Linked DNA regions of Homo sapiens: regions 1 and 3 are each linked to region 2. Evidence: fine-mapped expression QTL. A gene starts in region 2. Each other region holds a variant in brackets. All regions are shown on one strand. Distances are between the middles of the regions. Region 1 overlaps TSPAN14 (tetraspanin 14). Region 2 holds the start of TSPAN14 (tetraspanin 14). Region 3 overlaps TSPAN14 (tetraspanin 14).

The links. PIP is the estimated chance that this variant, and not a neighbour inherited with it, causes the effect.
Region 1: its variant is fine-mapped to the expression of TSPAN14 in whole blood (INTERVAL, PIP above 0.99).
Region 3: its variant is fine-mapped to the expression of TSPAN14 in whole blood (INTERVAL, PIP above 0.99).

Annotation. Positions count from the first base shown.
Region 1 is chr10:80,499,987-80,502,738 of GRCh38, reverse strand. The region is part of intron 2 of TSPAN14 (tetraspanin 14); the gene reads right to left. Among named protein-coding and RNA genes, the nearest start is that of TSPAN14-AS1, 35 kb to the left of the region's middle. RefSeq lists a silencer at 2,612-2,752. The variant AC/C (reference allele first, on the strand shown) is at 1,633.
Region 2 is chr10:80,452,699-80,455,450 of GRCh38, reverse strand. It overlaps TSPAN14 (tetraspanin 14), which reads right to left and starts at 1,141. Exons shown (of 9, transcript NM_030927.4): 1 at 1,080-1,141. RefSeq lists enhancers at 26-75, 106-365, 315-832, 1,576-1,785 and a silencer at 496-1,545.
Region 3 is chr10:80,483,092-80,485,843 of GRCh38, reverse strand. All of the region lies in intron 1 of TSPAN14 (tetraspanin 14), which reads right to left. Among named protein-coding and RNA genes, the nearest start is that of TSPAN14, 30 kb to the right of the region's middle. The variant T/A (reference allele first, on the strand shown) is at 1,519.

The sequences.
Region 1 (2,752 bases), 47 kb before region 2:
TTACTTGTCCTCCTAAGACAGCTAACGATATTTTACTCTTACTGTGCCCCACTACGCAGCCTTGGTCCCCCAACCCCAACCGAGCTCCCCCCAACTCTTCTCCGTCTCATTCAGTGGCACCACCGTCCACCCAGCAAGTGTAAGAGAGAAAACCCAGACCCCAGGCTTGGTGCCTTCTTTCTCTTTTGCCCTACACTCAACCCAGAGGACCCTCTGCTGGTTCTGCCTCCAAATACACAGTGCATTCGACCAGCTTTCCTCCAGTGTCTCTGCTCCCACCTGCCCCGGCTCCACCCACTCGAGTCTGGATCCCACGGGGCTCCTCACTGGTCCAAGCAACAAGACTGACCCTTCAAAAATACAGAGCTGGGAACTCCCCTCCTCGAAACTCTGCAGTGACTTCCCACGCAGACCTAGAAGAAAATGCACGGTCTCTCCCATGGCCCCCAAGGGCCTCTGCAGCCAGGCTTCACACACATCTCCCACGGCATCTCCTTCCCACCTCCCTGCTCCAACGCCACTCCCTGGGCCACCCTGACATTCTTGTTTCTTGAAGTCATCAAAATCACCCCTGCCTCAGAGCCTGGACACTGTTCCCTCAGCCGGCAATGCTCTTCCTCCATATCCATTCCTGGCTCCTCCCTCACTGCGTTCAAGGCCTCCTTTTACCACCCTGAGTGGAACTGCTCCCCATCCTCCATGTGTGACCTCCTCTGTTGATTTTCTTCGCGGCACTGATCCCAGACCACAGGGGCTGTCTCTCTATTGTGTCTCCCCAGCTAAGCCCTTCTGAGGCCAGAGATGTTACCTGTTTTGTTCAGAGTTGCAGCCCAACAACGAGGAGGGCTTGGCCCTCAGTAGGCACAGAGCAGGCATGAGTGACTCCCCAGGATTCAAGACCAGGACAGTGCTTGCCTGGGTCCTTCTAGCTACCCCCAGGCACACTTCTGGGTGTGATTCAATCCAAAGGCATTCAGAGCAAATGTGGGCCAAGAAAAGCTCAGCCTGGCCCAGGTGCATGGGTCAAGCTCTATACAGGGGCATTTGCCTATGGTCAGAGCAGAACAAGCCCAGAGGCCGATGCCCCATCCAGCATTCCCAACAGACATTCCAGCCCCTGCCTAACAGCTTTCCATGACAGTCCGCTCATCCTGTGGGGCCACATGGGACAGGTGAGAAAAGTCTACCTTAAGGACACTCAACAAAACCACTGCTGGAGCTCCCCTCTCTCCTCCACACTGCACTTCACAGCTCACCCCTTCTCTCACCTTGACTACTAAGTCTGACTTCTAAGGGTATTGTTTCCCACATTAATACCAGCCTCAGGCTGAGAACAGTGGCTCACAGCAATTTGGGAGGCTGAGGCAGGAGGATTGCTTGAGCCCAGGCGTTCAAGACCAGCCTGGGCAACATAGCAAGACCCCCATCTCTTAAAAAAAAAAAAAAAAAAAAGGTTTTCTAAAAAAATTAGCTGTAAAAAAAAAAATGCCTGTATTCCCAGCTACCAGGGAGGCCGAGGTGGGAGGACTGCTTGAACTTGGGAGGTCAAGGGTGAGATTGCACCACTGCACTCCAGCCTGGGTGGTAACAGAGTAAGACCAGGTCTCCCAAAAAAAAAGAAAAAAAAAAAAA[AC/C]AGCGTCAGTTCCATCTATATTAATAGGTTTCTGTGAATTCACGCTGAGGTGCTGTTTTAGTTGTTTTGTTCTCCTAGGTGACTAAATAGTGACTAAATAGATACAATAGGAAGAGGTGACTGGTTTCACAAAAGGAATTTTGGTCTGCACAAGTTCTCAAAAAAGACCCTCGACCTCAAGAGCAGTTCATATCCCCACCCTCAGGGGCACAGTGCCCATGCAAAGGTAGGCCTGCTCCTGCTCACCTCTGTTCCAATCGCCCCTTCCCCACATGCAGGGCCGCTGTAGGGCCGCTTACCGCTCTGCATATGGCCCACAGACCACACCCTCCCTCGCTTGCTGTTCTTCTCAAGGCCCCCAGGGAAAGCCCTGGCTGACTCTGTGTTTACTGGGGAAGCCAGCTCCCCACCACTGCGTGCAGTTCTCTTTCTCTCAGCTCTAAGAATAAGGACTTGGCCAGGCGTGGTAGCTCATGCCTGAAATCTCGGCACTTTGGGAGGCCGAGTGCTGGGAGGCCCAGCACTTTGGGAGGCGGATCACCTGAGGTCAAGAGTTTGAGACCGGCCTCACCAACATGGAGAAACCCCATCTCTACTAAAAATAAAAAATTAGCCGAGCGTGGTGGCACATGCCTATAATCCCAGCTACTCAGGAGGCTGAGGCAAGAGAATCACTTGAACCTGGGAGGTGGAGGTTGCGGTGAGCCAAGATCACGCCATTGCACTCCAGCCTGGGCAGCAAGAGCAAAACTTCGTCTCAAAAAAAAAAAAAAAAAAAAAAAAAAAAAAAAGAATAAGGCCTTGTGTTGTTTTCATTCTGTTTTAAAGGAAGAACTAAAGTTAACTCACACCGGAAAGACAGGAACTTGGGGATCACATGTCAGATCATGGGTTCAATGAACAGTGGCCCAGGGCAGGAACTCTGAGTACCAACAAACCTGGTTTCAGAGACCAGGAGATTGAGGGAGGACTAGACAGGGGAAGTGATCTGCCTGAGAGCTCACATAACGGTCCCATGAATGAACTGGGTCATTGGCCCGCTTCACCCCACGGAACCCTTCCCTGGAACTCTGCAGCAGATGGTCCATGGGGCCAGGCCAGGTAAGCCCTGGCTGCTGT
Region 2 (2,752 bases):
CCCCTGGAGAGCAGACCACTGCCAAGAGCACACCTGCAGAGGCTCCAATACAATGCTCTGCACAGCCGCCCAGCACCGCCTGACCTCCCGGATAGCAGCGCCAGCACAGCCAACGAGTGTGTGACACCGCCGCACTCACCACCGCTCTGCGCCCAGCCCCAGGCCAGTACCCGGGCCCACGACTTCCCCCGACTCCCCCTAGCACGGACTGTTTCTCGCCGGAGATCAACTTTAAGTCCCCAAGACAAGTGCTCCTGCGGTCCCAGGGCCAAAGTCCCTCCACACACCCTCACACAGGCACTTCCTACCCACCCGCACCCCACCCCTGGGGGTGGAGGAGAAGCAGCAGCGGCCCGGGACAAGCACAGTCCGCAGCCACAAACCTCACTCTACCAGAACTCCGGCTAGGTCAGGGGTCAGGCTTTGCTCCCAAACACAACCCCACACGACTAACGCGGAGAAGCTGGGTCACCGCCTACTCAAACTCCGGCCGTCCCAAACCCAAGCCGGGCAGAGTGGGACCCACGGCGGCGTGGGAGACTGAGCACAACCACGGCGGGGCAGGAGGAAGGGGCGGCCCGCCCCGGCCTACGCCCACCCCCACCCCGGACCCGATCTCCTGGGAGCCGAGGGTGGGTGACTGAGCCGAAAGGGTGGCCCATCCCCGAGCTCGCTGCTGGGGACGAGAAGCAGAGCCCCGAGCAGCAGCGGCCGTCCAGGCTCCCGTCGCCCTCACCCCGCCCGGCACGGGCGCGCACTCGCCGGGGCGCGCTGATGGGGCGAGGGCTACCGAACCAGGAGTGCCGGCCCCGGGCCCGCCGCGGCTCTCGTCCGCGCGGCGCCGGAGTTCGGCTCAGCGGGGTCCCGGCGGAGGCCTCCAACCTCTAGCGAGCAATCCTGGCAGACAAAGCCAGCGCCGCCCGCGGGGCCGCTCCTGGGCAGGCGGGGAGGGAGGCTGAGGGGCCAAACAGGGACCTAAGGAGCAGCCCTCGCCCCCGGAGAACGCTCGGGGAAGTCGGCCTCAGACAAAGAAAGGGGCAGGGCCCGACGCCCCAGCCAGGTCTCCGCGCTCTACTCACCCGCGCGCGGCGGCGGCAGCGGCGGCGCGGCCCGGCTCGGCCGAGGAAGTTAGAGCAAGTTCCGCGGCGCGGGGCGGGAGGGCGCGACTCGGGCCGTCCGAGCGGCGGGGGCGGGGCGCGGAGGGGCGCGGAGGGGCGGGGCCGGAGGCGCGGCGCCTGCCGTCTGCCGAGGAAGGGGCGCCGCTTCCCTGCGCCGCCCGGTGCGGCCCCGGGCGCCTGGGCCCGCCCTGGCCCCGCCCCTCCCCCAGCCGCCTCGCCCCTCCCCCACCGCACCCCGCCTCCCGGCCCGCGCGGCACCGGGGACCGCGAGGCCGGGTCGCCGGCCCGCCCCTTTGTCCCGCTCTGGGCGGTGCCGGAGGCTTGGGGCGGCCCCGGTCCGCGCCCTCCCAGTGGGTGCGCGGCGCAGGCCGGGCCTGGCCCGGGGCCGGGCACTTGTAGCCGCCGGGAGCGCTCTGAGCCGTTGCGCTGCGCAGACGCCGCTCTGGCCTTGTCGGAGCCGAACCTGGGAGAAGCACGAGCTGTGGGAGGCGGCGTCTCGAGGGATACACGGGATGACCGTGGAGAGCGGGCGAAGGATTAGGAAAATGGCTGTGGTGGAGATAAGAGGCGTTCCTGCCCGGCTTTGGAGCCTGGGGGCGGGGGTAGTCTTCAATCAAAAGAAGGATGGGGAAAAGGTTTTTATTTCTTTGTAAACCAAGGAGTAAGGACACGCTCCTTCTGGCCTTGGTGCTAAAAATACCAAGCTTTCTTTGGATCGTGGCTGAGATTTCTTCCTAACCTTTACGCTAAAGAGGTGGCTGGGACGATTCTTGTGGTGTAGGGGGGTTTCCAGGGACAGCCAGGGGTGGCGCCCCTCTTTGGATCGTGGCTGAGATTTGTTCCTCACCTTTACGCTAAAGAGATGGCTGGGACGATTCCTGTGGGGTAGAGGGGTTTCCAGGGATAGCCAGGGGCGGCTCCCCAGCCTCAGCCTCCCTACCTGTAGAATGAAGCATGCCACACCTCTGTTTCTTAAACTTATTCGGTGGCTGAGGGCCGAGTGGTCTTCTCTGTTGAGTAACACCAAACAGGGATCTATTAAAACTGGGCTAAGACTGGTTGCCACATGCCAGTACAAGCAACCAACAGGTTAATTCCAATGGAAGGAGGAAATCTTGAAATGGAGACTGTTCAGTCCATTCCCAGGTTTGTTTGGGTTGTTTTTTGAGCTAAGGTATCGCTTTGTCACCCAGGCTGGAGTGCAGTGGCATGACCATGGCTCACTGCAGCCTCGACCTCCCGCCTCAGCTTCCCCAAGTAGCTGGGACCACAGGTGCAGGCCACCACACCTAGCTAATTTTTTTTTTTTTTTTTTTGTAGAGACGAGATCTTGCTGTGTTGCCAGTGATGGTCTTAAATTCCTGGGCTTAAGCAATCCTTCCGCCTCTGCCTCCCAGAGTGCTGGAATTACACGCATGAGCCACGGTGCCTGGCTAATTTTATTTGTTTGTTTAATTAAGAGGGATGCAACCTGTCTGTGACAGCCCAGGCAGCTCTGGAAACTCCCTGGGAACCTGTCCATTCATTCAGCAGATAGTGAGTGTTTGTCTGAGTGCCTGATAATATGCCAGGCCCTGTGTGCATGGTGGGATACTTCAGTGAACAAGACAGCTGAGGCCTTTTGCCCAATAAAG
Region 3 (2,752 bases), 30 kb before region 2:
CTTTTTCCCCCATCCTCAACCCACAGAAGAGGAAACTATTGCAATAAACTGTTGAAAAGAAACATTTCAGTTTTCCTTCTCCGCTCCCCGCTTTCCCACCCCTGCCACCCACCTAACCTCGGGACAGGGAGGGAAGGCACCTCTCAATCTGTCCCTCTCTGCTGTGTTGGCCAGCGGGTTGGAAAGCAGGTCCTGACCCTCTGTGGGGCTGGCAGATCCTGGTCTCCACATAGTTTAAGCTGAAGAAGGTAAATGGGAGACTCATTAGGACTCCAGCCTAAGCCACATCCTCCTACACAGTGTAAGGTGGCCTTCTGACTGTGGAGGGGTAATGATGGAGCTGCACAACAGGTATGGCTCGGAGGCTTCAGAACCCCAAGGGAGGAAAAAAGGACTGAGCGCTCCTGAGCCACCAACGGAGCTACTAGGGCATTTACACAAAAATGCAGGAAGGCTGATAAAGGCAGTAGTGCTGAAACTAGAACCCAGATCTGACCCAAAATGATTCCCAAAATGACCATGGTCCCTAGCATCTCACCTCATTTGCTAAACCACATCATACTGAAGGAAGGCAGAAGTTAGCCCTCTATGAGCAGATGCATCCACAAAGAACACCAACACTCTTTATCTTACACACACACACGCACGCATGACTAAGAACCTTCCTAAAAGTAGAGATGGGTAAACTTTTCACAAATGTTAGGTACCATTCCAGCAGAGAAGAATCTCCAAAAGCTATTTTGTGTGCCTAGAAAAAAAATTAGGATCTCAAACTGTCTCAACTCTAAGAATGTGATAGAAAATAAAGCATCAGTGTGGCAGGAAGGAGGCACATGTTTATCAAAATACCAACTTCTCAAAACAGGGCAAAGGGAGAATTGTTTAACAGTAGTGAGATAACTGGTTAGCAACTTGAGGGGAGTTAAATAATAAGCAAATAACAACTTACAGATTTAAAGGGCATATGCACATACATGCACACACCACACCCAGAGAACAGGGTTTTCAAGTCCATTTTACCCACCTTCAACTTTTGAGGCAACAGGAAAAAACAATTCAAAGCACAAGACTACCAAGCCTGAACAGATAACAAATCTAAAAAATCCCCATGAATAAAAGTAACATTAAAATAAAAAAGGAAACACAAATGTTATCTGCAGCTGAAAAAATTATGACACAGTAAATATCTGCAACCTATAGAGACCCATACTTCAAAAAGACCCCCGTTGTACACAAATGAACAAAGGATATGAACATTATACACAAAGGAAAGAATAACAAAGGGAAGAATAACGTAACAAATGGAAAAATAAGCCTGTGCAACAAGGCCAAACACCATCTCTACAAAAAGTACAAAAATTAGCTGGGTGTGGTGACTGAAGTCCCAGCTACGTGGGAGGCTGAGGCGGGATAATCGCTTGAGCCTGGGAGGTCCAGGCTGTGATGAACAGTGATGACACCACTGCACTCCAGTCTGGGTGACAGAGCAAGACCCGGTCTTTAAAAAATAAAAAAATT[T/A]AAAAAAAAGGAAAAATTTTCAATGTCACTAGAAATAAAACTTAAAGACAACCCAGATATACTATTTTACACTTTTTTTTTTTTTAAACAAGTCCTGCTCTGTTGCCCAAGCTGGAGTGCAGTGGCGCACTCAGCTCACTGCAACCTCCGCCTCCCTGGTTCAAGTGATTCTCTAGCCTCAGCCTCTGGAGTAGCTGGGACCACAGGTGCATGCCACCAGGCCTGGCTAATTTTTGTATTTTTTGTACAAACGGGGTTTCATCATGTTGCCCAGGCTGGTTTTGAACTCCTGAGCTCAAAGCAATCCGCCCACCTTGGCCTTCCAAAGTGCTGAGATTACAGGCGTGAGTCACCGTGCCTGGCCTATTTTACACTTTTTTTTTTTTTTTTTTTTTTTTTTTTTTTTTTTTTTTTGAGACAAGAGTTTTGCTCTTGTTGCCCAGGCTGGAGTGCAATGGTGCAATCTTGGCTCACTGCAACCTCCGCCTCCCGGGTTCAAGTGATTATCCTGCCTCAGCCTACTGAGTAGCTGAGATTACAGGCGACCGACACCATGTCCAACTAATTTTTGTATTTTTAGTAGAGACAGGAGTTTCACCATGTTGGCCAGGCTGATCTCGAACTACTGACCTTGGGTGATCTGCCCATCTCAGCCTCCCAAAGTGCTGGGATTATAGGCATAAGCCACCATACCCGGCCTACTTTACACTTTTTAATTTAACAAAATTGCCACCACTATTGTGGCAAACACATTTATTCCTTGTTGGCAGCAGATGAAACGGTTACTACCATTTGGTAGCAATATGGTTACATTTACCACCCAAAAAAAGGTCACACCCTTAATCAATAAACTAATGACTAAGAATTTGCCTCCAGAAAAAGAATACACATTAAGTGAAACATGAACCTCATGGTTTGCAATTATGAGACAATTTGTAAGCATGTGCTTAAAGGCCAAAGTGGAATGTTAAGAGCATGAAAATGGCTGCATGGGGTGGTGGTGGACTTACAAGTGATTTTCCAAAAAGGTTTCCAGCATCACACTTACCATTACCACCTTTGTATTATAAATGAAAATGGGGCCGCTGCTGGTTGGAGGTGCCCCTGCTGGGAAGGAGAATGCTTGCTACAATATATAAGGCTGGCAGTCATCATAAACAGGGCTCCTTGGCTTCAGTGTTGTACTCACCTTTAATATTCCTCCCTCCTGCCCTTTTTTAAATTAAAAAAGTAG